3 separate regions of the Homo sapiens genome follow, and regions 1 and 2 are each linked to region 3. The links come from fine-mapping of genetic effects on gene expression. A gene starts in region 3. Each other region holds a variant in brackets. All regions are shown on one strand. Distances are between the middles of the regions. Region 1 overlaps STXBP5 (syntaxin binding protein 5). Region 2 overlaps STXBP5-AS1 (STXBP5 antisense RNA 1). Region 3 holds the start of STXBP5 (syntaxin binding protein 5).

Region 1 (2,763 bases), 120 kb after region 3:
AAATAAATGCAGGTATTTATTAACTTGACATTGTTTTGGTCCACAGTCCTAGAGGCCAGTTTCTTAAAGTAAGAAGTATAACAAAAATTGATGTTAAAATATAATATTGAGGCTTTTTTCATATAAAATGCCTTTGTTTACAATTGGTTTATTTGAAGAAACATTTTAAAAGCAGCTGTTTAAGACCAAGGAAGGGGATTGATTGAGACCAGGAGTTCAAGACCAGTCTGGATAACATAGTAAGATACCATCTCTACAATAAAGTTTTTTAAAAAATTAGCCAGGTGTGGCGACATCACCTGTAGGCTGAAGTGGGAGGATTGCCTGAGCCCAGGAGTTCAAGGTCACAGTGAGCTATGATCATAGCTGCACTCCAGCCAGGGTGACAGAGTGAGTTTCTGTCTCTTAAAAAAAGAGGTAAAAAAGAAAAGGCAGCCGTTTGACTTGTTTCTTTTAGCAATGAAATTTTATGTTTTTGAATTATTTTTATTGTCCCTTTGCAAGGTACTTGCTCAAACAATCATTTTGAAACTGTGAGGCTCTACGCATCACTTTAACATTTAAAATACGTTTGTACAAATTATGGAACTCTTTATAAAACTTTTTCCTTAAAAAGTAAACAAATCAACTTGAATATATTAAAAACATTAAAATTATACCATAACCATTTAGAATAAAGCATAACACCCTCTTCCCATTTCATATTTTTAAAATGTAACTTACCTGCTTTCATTTCTTGGCTTAGGTTTCTCATCCTTTACCATTTTGCATCATGTTTGGCTGCCTTTTTATTTTTACTTAAGAACGTTTTTTTGTTTCCTTATACTAACTAAAATAAGAATTCCATGAGTTCTGTGTGTCCTGGTCACTTAAATCTTAAATGTGCCCATATATGTACTTCTAAAATTATCCCTGGAATGCCTGGTTCTGCTCTTGAGAATTTGTCGTGCACATTTAATATGCCAGAGGGAGGGAGGACACTTCCTTGACCCTAACCTTCTATACCTAATTCATAGAAGTAGAAGATAGACCACTCAGACCCTTCAGTCTACTCCTGTGTCAAGGCTGACTCTGGGAAGAAATGAAATGCCTCAGTTGTTACTCTGTCGCTTGAGATGGAGAGCTGTAGCTGATTAGTGGGTATTTCCCTAAGAATAATTCAGAAATTTTGCATCAGCCAGTGTAGAGTTCTGAATGCATTGCCTTGCAAACCTTGACCAGCCAGAAGTGAACTGTAGTTCAATTCGTATAAGCAGTGCCCTCAGTGATTCACATTTACCCTGAAGTCTGAACAACTTTCGCTGTTTCCTAGCATGTATGTCATCAAAACACGAGGTGCCATGGTCTTCCACATTAGAAATACCAACTGAATAATTCAGAAGGGTTCTTACCTCTGAGTTTGGTGGCAGGAAATTCAACAT[C/T]GAGTAGTCTTCCTGCTGTTCTCTCACACACTGTCATTTCAAGGCAGAAGCCTTAAGAATTGCGGAAGTAACCAGGCTTTGCATATGTTTTGCTACAGCAATTACTAGGCAAAGAGTTGTGCAATCAAAAATGTTTTTAACTTAAAGTCATAGTAGAGTTTTTTACAATAAAAGCAGTCACACACTAAAATTGTTCACATTTTTTAAAAAAATGTGCCTTTCAAGTACACTTGAAGTTTTCTGGTACAAGTATAGCAGGTATTGTTTCAGAAGGTCTCACACTCTTTTAAACCCCTCTTTATCTCTTCCTTTCTAAAATCCTAATGACAAGTTTAGTTCAGCATGGATTTAACTATTCATGAGGTTTGGGAATAGGTAGTCATACCTGCTGACTAGTTTCACTTGTAGTTCTCTACCATCATCTCAAACTTAACCCCATGGTCTCCTAAAACTACCTCTTTATCCCTCCCTCCCTCCCTTCCTTCTGTCTGATTGTACATTCACTGTTTCTTCTTTTCTTCCTCTACCCTACCTCTACTCAACCTCCAATTCATTCAGTAAATATTGAGTACCTCTTTTGTGCCAGTGTTAAAAGTATTAATAGCTGCAAGGTTTCTGCCTTCCTGAAATGTAAAGCCTTGTCTGTTCTTACTCCATTAATGTGTTTCAATCTCCCTTTTTCTTGTTTCACATCAGAATCACAGGAACTTCCCAATTGGTGACCCTGTTCTACTTCGTCTTACCTATGTTCACCAAATTAATCTTCCCCAGATATTTCTTATCAACCTTCATTGGCCTTTAATTCTTCTTTTTTTTTTTTGGAGACGGAGATCTCACTCTGTCGCCCAGGCTGGAGTGCAGTGGTGCCATCTCAGCCCACTGCAACCGCTGCCTCCCAGGTTCAGGCGATTCTCCTGCCTCAGCCTCCCGAGTAGCTGGGATTGCAGGTGCTCACCACCACACCCGGGTAATTTTTGTATGTTTAGTAGAGACGGGGTTTCGCCATGTTGGCCAGGCTGGTCTCGAACTCTTGACCTTAAGTGATCTGCCCACCTCGGCCTCCCAAAGTGCTCTGATTATAGGTGTGAGCCACTGCACCCAGCCTGTCTTAATTCTTTAATAATGAAAATATATTACCTTTGTCTAATTTGACCATCTGCAAAGTACTTTTCATAGGCAGTCACAAGTTCCTCACATTGTGACTAGGTAGTAATACTCCCACTTTCTAGGTGAAAAGACAGCTGGTGAGTAACAGAATCAGTACTCAAAGTCCACCTTGCTGAGAGTTCTTTCTACCAACATCAAACCTTTGTGGACAGGACTTGAAGACCCTCTAAAGTCT
Region 2 (2,763 bases), 310 kb before region 3:
TATATTTGCCCTTCTCTTAACCTGAAGCTGGTTGGCTGAATTTGATGTTCTTCGTATCTGCAGTGCCTGTGTCTGCAGTGCTTATGTGAAATGTTGGAAATAGCCCTTGTAGCAGCTCTGGCCACACAGGGCTGGTAAAGTCTTCCAAGGGACAGTTTGTCTTTGGGGGTGTCAGGGAGTTCCTGAGCTGTGGCTCAGTCAATTGTCCTTCACTTATTTTAGTCATGCATATTTTCCTTTGAATAGTGAATTGTTAAGACAGTCCTAGCCTGGTCATGGAACAGTGTAATTCTTGAGACCAAATGGGGCAAAATCATCTTAGAGTTAGATCTTTTGAGTGGAAGTATTTCTTTACTTTCCAATATTCTGGTTATAATTTTAATTCTTGCAAATTAAGTCTTAAAACCTAGGGCTCACCTAAACAAGAGAGCATGTTAATAATTTGTTGCCTCTTCAAACTAATGTTTTAAAAGTATTTTCCCAGTGTGCATTAAGGAGAGAGGTTATGTGCTGTAGGGTGTGGCAGAAAAGAAGAGCTGCTCTTGGCTGTGCTGAACTGTTCTGAGCAATTTAGTCGGGATCTCAAATGTGCCTAACACTCTGCAAAATATGCCTGCCCTTTCCTGACCAACCATCCTCAGAATCAGGTAGGACATTCCTCACAGTCACCTGAGCCCGAGTCTGGAAAGTCTCTTCTCTTGTTTGTAGGGTCTTATCAAACTAATTCTTCCAACCACTTTTCCCTAGAGGAATTCTGGTAAATATGATTTCTTATACTTGTTATATTCCCATTGATGTCTTTGTAATCAGTGACGTTTAGTTCCCCTCACAGATTGATGCCAAAGGCTGTCTAACCTTTGATTCAGCTCTGTCAATCACTAAGGTCCCAAAATATATATAAATGGCCAATTTTGATACCGTGTCAGGGATTAAAAACACAAGGCAATATTTTTACATGTAACACAGGTACAGCCAAGATTGGAAACAAAACTAATAGAGATCCTGATAAATTCAGAATGTTCTTATTCATTTAATTTGTTAATGCTTAATTCTAACTTGAGGGATTCTGATAAATTTACCACTTAACTGAGAGGAATGTTTTTGAAATCAAGTATTTTGATCTAAGGAAAACACTGGGTAAATTTTCTGTCAAATTGTGAGCTGAGATGGCTAAGACTAAGTATATGCAAGAAGATAATGCTTGGGTATTTTTTTTAACTTTTTATTTTGGAAAATTTCAAGCCCATACAAAAATAGACAGGACAGTAGAAAGGACCCCTATGGACCTGTCATTTAATTTCAACCATTCTCTTCACATGACTTGTTTTGTTTCAGCAGCGCTGTCACCTCCCTCCACTCCTATGAAGATTCAGAAACATCTAGAAAGGCCAGGAAGATATATTGATACTAACAAGATGATATGCTATCAGCATAAATAGAAAAGTCTCCTTTTCAACATTTTTAAATGTATGTCTTTTACGTTAAATTCAGTTGATTTTAAGGACAGAGAACTGGCTTTAAAAGAATTTGTGAGGGAAAGA[C/A]CTTGAGCGAATGAGCTCAATATAAACCAGTTCTGGAAGAGAACTGATAAACAAGTGGACCATATCTAAGACAGCATGAAAAGTGGGTTTCAGATAAAGGGAGGCACCATGAACTCCTGCCTCATGAACCCCTATCTGAGATAAAATCTTTAACCCTGGACACCACACGATAAGAAAAATGATGTCTAAGCAGACTACTCTGTGAGAGAGAGAGAGAGACAGAAAAGGCGAGGATCCTAAAAATCACCTCACTCACCCAAGGAGCAGATGAAGAAGTTCAGCATGTCTCACTAGGATTAAAAATAATTAAAAACTTGCAGGACAAGAAAATTGCCTTCAATAACCTGAATGTGTGTTCATGGAAAAGAGACTCAGTTTGCCAAATTAAAAATATGATTTTTTTTTGGAGACTCTTTGCAGGCTTCTACTGGTGTAATTTGGTGATAAACCTTAGACTCTCTCCAGTGTCCTTTATTTTAGTAAATGCTACATATGAGGCATACTACAAGCCATCTCCCAAATGCTTCCTGTTTTCAACGGATAAACAGATGAAATCTAGATTCAAAAATTACAGCCGATGGTGTAGATATGAAAAAATTTAAACACTCCTAGTAACTGATGTCATATGATTTTGCTAATGTAGGAAGAGAATTATCCTTAATGAAAAAGAAAAGAACTAGATCCTGGGCACATTGTTCCACAACTTGAACTTTCCAGAAGAGAGGGGTAGGTTGTCAAGAGAAGGAGAAGACAAGCATCGCTTATAACAACGGTATTATTTCCAGAGCCAGGCATCAAGTATGGTGGATGTATGTGCTTCATAAATGCCAGCTGAACTGACAAGACACTACCTCAGGGACTTGTCTCAGGAACAAACACTGGGAAGATTCCTAAAACCCAATACTGTTTTACTCCCACCTTCTCCAGTGTCTGGAAGTTTGACCTTGGAACCCATTCCATTACCTTTTGAATGTTGCTCATGATTAAAATGCAAACAATTCTAGGACAGTTCATCCCCAGGCACGAAGTGGTCACATGGTATATACAAAAGATGGGTTCAGTGTCTATCAGATTTGGGTTTAATTTCCAGCTCTGCTATTTTGTAGTTGTGTATGTAACTTGGACAAATGTCTTCATCTCTCTGCATCTCTTTCATGTGTGTTGAATGTAGGATTTTTATAAGCTCGAACAATAGGAAGTATTGAAGTATCACACATACAGA
Region 3 (2,763 bases):
AAATAGTGGCAGCGCGGCGTTTCCTGCCACCCGCGCTCCTCCCCGGCGAGGGGCTGGGTGCGGGGTAGTGTCATCGGCCCGGGCTGACACCGGCCCTGGAACCGTTCCCCGCTGGCAGCCTCTTCCATCCCAGCAGCTAACTGCTAAGACCAGACACGTTCCACCAACAGTAACAGCTGTAGGAAAGAACCCGTTTTTTCCCGTCTAGGTTTCTCTCCTTTTCCTAGTACCTAAGTCCATCATCCTCCTGCCACTGACATATCGTTGTCTAGACGCTCTTTTTCAAAACTCAAATCCAATCAAACAAAAACAACGCCCGTCAATAAAGCAAGAAAAATAATACTGCAGCCAGCGGCCAGGAGCGTGCACCCCATTAACGGCGAGAAAGCATCAACCCCTGCTGTAATGACTGAATTGGAAAGAAAGGTTTCCTGCTGCTTGTTAGTCGTCAACATTTTTACTATGCCAGCTGCAAGAGAAGCAGCTGCATACTCTGGCAACTCGACTGGGGTGGGAGAAATTTAGCCAGCGTCTGGGATTTTCGCAGAAGATAATTTAAGCCCCAGCTTCGCTCGGGCTGGGGGGCTGGGGGCCTGCTGGGCCAGGGTGGGGGAACCGGGCTGCGGCGCGCATGCGCAGGTACCGCAGCCCGGCTCCTGGGAGGCCCTGCTGCCGCCACCGCCGCGGCCCGCGCTGTAACCGCGGCTGCCGCTGCTGCTCCGGGCGGGCGTTGGTGCCGTGTGCCGAGGCGCCCTGTCAGGCGATGGGGAGCGGCTGGGCGGGGAGAGCCGACGGCCGCGGCGGCGCCTGAGGAACGCAGCCGGGCTCGGGAGCGGCGAGGGCGGGCCGGTCCAGCGGCGGAGGAGCGAGGCGGGGCGAGGCAGGCGGCGCGGGGACCCACACCAGGCGCCTTGTGTGCGAGGCCGAGCGGCGGCCGCGGACAGAGAGCCGGCGACCCCCGGCAGGAGGAGAAGGAGCCGGAGGACGCGCCGAGGGACTGCGGGGCCGGGGCGGGCGAGCAGCGGCGCGGCCGCGGGCCATGGACGCAGCGGCGACGGTGGCGGCGCCGGGGGCGAGCCGGGGCGGCGGCGCGGCGCAGAGTCCGCCCGCGGCCAGGTGAGGCTGGGCTGAGCGGGCTCGGGCGCCGCCGCCACTGCTGCTGCTGCTGCTGCCGGGCCGCGGAGCGAGGCGGCGGCGGCGGCGGCTGAATCGGCACCACAGCAGCCGCGCCAAGCAGCGGCGGCCTCGGAGGAAGAGGGGTCGCCGCCCAGGTTTCTTGCGGCCGCCGCTCTTGTCGTCGCAGTATTTCCTGTTCGGATTATCTTTTGCTTCCCCCCAGCTGCCTCCTTACCCTCACACTCCCACTCCTCCGTTTCCGCGGTCGAAGCTGCCTTCGGCCCCGGGTGGTCTCCCCCGCCCGGGGACCCCCTGTGCCTCCCCTCCCGGGCTGCGGGGGAGCCCCTCCGAGACCATGAGGAAATTCAACATCAGGAAGGTGCTGGACGGCCTGACCGCCGGCTCGTCCTCGGCGTCGCAGCAGCAACAGCAGCAGCATCCGCCTGGGAACCGGGAGCCGGAGATCCAGGAAACGCTCCAGTCCGAGCACTTTCAGCTCTGCAAGGTGAACGGAGCGCGCAGCCCCGCGACACCGTCATTGAAAAATTGGGGTTGTTTTAAGGGGGCTACTCGGGCTTTACATGGGAATGCAAGGGAAGAGAACGCCAATAATAATAATAATAACTCTAATAAAAGGCTCGCTCCTCCCTTGGCAAACGTTTCTTCGGTGGGTTGTTTTGGAGATTGATACCTTACTCCTTTTCATTGATTTTTCTCTCTCCCCTTTGCACATGCAGCAATCAGTTCAAGGTTGCTTCAAACTATTATCCGACCTTTAATCGTATTCTGACACTGCCAGTAATAACCTGGAAGCTTTTATATTCAAGCGTTTTAATATGATTCACCAACTTCGAAGTTTCCTTTGGAAACGGTGTCTAATGAATGTTGTTTATCAAAAAGCCAAACCTGTTCTACCACACCTTTGCTCATCACTTTTCCCTTAAAATGTGGTGTAAGTGGCTTACGATATGAAATCACAGGGTTCTTTTTATCATTATGTTTGTTAAAAAGTACTGAGATTTTTGCCTGTTAATGGCACGATAATTGCCATAGCGTTCTGTAATTCAGAAAGAATGATGCAGCGAATTAAGTCACCAGCTGCTTAATGAGAAACACAAACTTGCCTCGGTTTTAATACCTGCCTTTCTCATAAATAGCCATGTATTTGTATGTCAGAGTTAATTAAAAGTGTGCATATATATATATATATATATATATATAGGTCTAATGCCCTAAAATGATTATGGCCTTAATAGTAAATTGCAAAAATGTATGTTGTACTCATCTTCATTCTGTTACAAGTGTAAAATGTTGGGATAGAGGTTTGATTATTGCTCTACTGAATGCTTGACTAAAGTAATTATATGACAGCTTTTCCTTAGAAGTACTTGCGTTAGCATCCAAATAAAGTAATGATGAAATGAATACTGCCAAAATAAAGTATGAATTGCATTTAATGGGTTTACAGAATTTTGGACCATTGCAAACTTTAGTCATCTGGTGTCGGATGTAGTAGTATAGAATATTAATAAAAGATTTTCTTCTATGGAATACCAGTATTATGGAAAAGCGAAATTAAAGTATATCACTGGACTAGATTTTTGTTTGTTTCAGGTTCTATGTGAATAACTTTGTTAATGTAGGTTT

Evidence for each region.
Region 1: its variant is fine-mapped to the expression of STXBP5 in whole blood (TOPMed, PIP 0.97).
Region 2: its variant is fine-mapped to the expression of STXBP5 in adrenal gland (GTEx, PIP above 0.99).

What each region holds. Positions count from the first base shown.
Region 1 is chr6:147,321,167-147,323,929 of GRCh38, forward strand. The region is part of intron 16 of STXBP5 (syntaxin binding protein 5); the gene reads left to right. Among named protein-coding and RNA genes, the nearest start is that of STXBP5-AS1, 120 kb to the left of the region's middle. The variant C/T (reference allele first, on the strand shown) is at 1,422.
Region 2 is chr6:146,896,621-146,899,383 of GRCh38, forward strand. All of the region lies in intron 7 of STXBP5-AS1 (STXBP5 antisense RNA 1), which reads right to left. Among named protein-coding and RNA genes, the nearest start is that of LUADT1, 260 kb to the right of the region's middle. The variant C/A (reference allele first, on the strand shown) is at 1,542.
Region 3 is chr6:147,203,062-147,205,824 of GRCh38, forward strand. STXBP5 (syntaxin binding protein 5) reads left to right here and starts at 1,356. Exons shown (of 28, transcript NM_001127715.4): 1 at 1,356-1,621. The coding sequence starts at 1,472. It overlaps STXBP5-AS1 (STXBP5 antisense RNA 1), which reads right to left and starts at 1,553. Exons shown (of 11, transcript NR_034115.1): 1 at 1,352-1,553. It overlaps LOC124901422 (a long non-coding RNA gene), which reads right to left and starts at 510. Exons shown (of 2, transcript XR_007059803.1): 1 at 1-510. RefSeq lists silencers at 539-958, 989-1,038, 1,059-1,138, 1,309-1,498.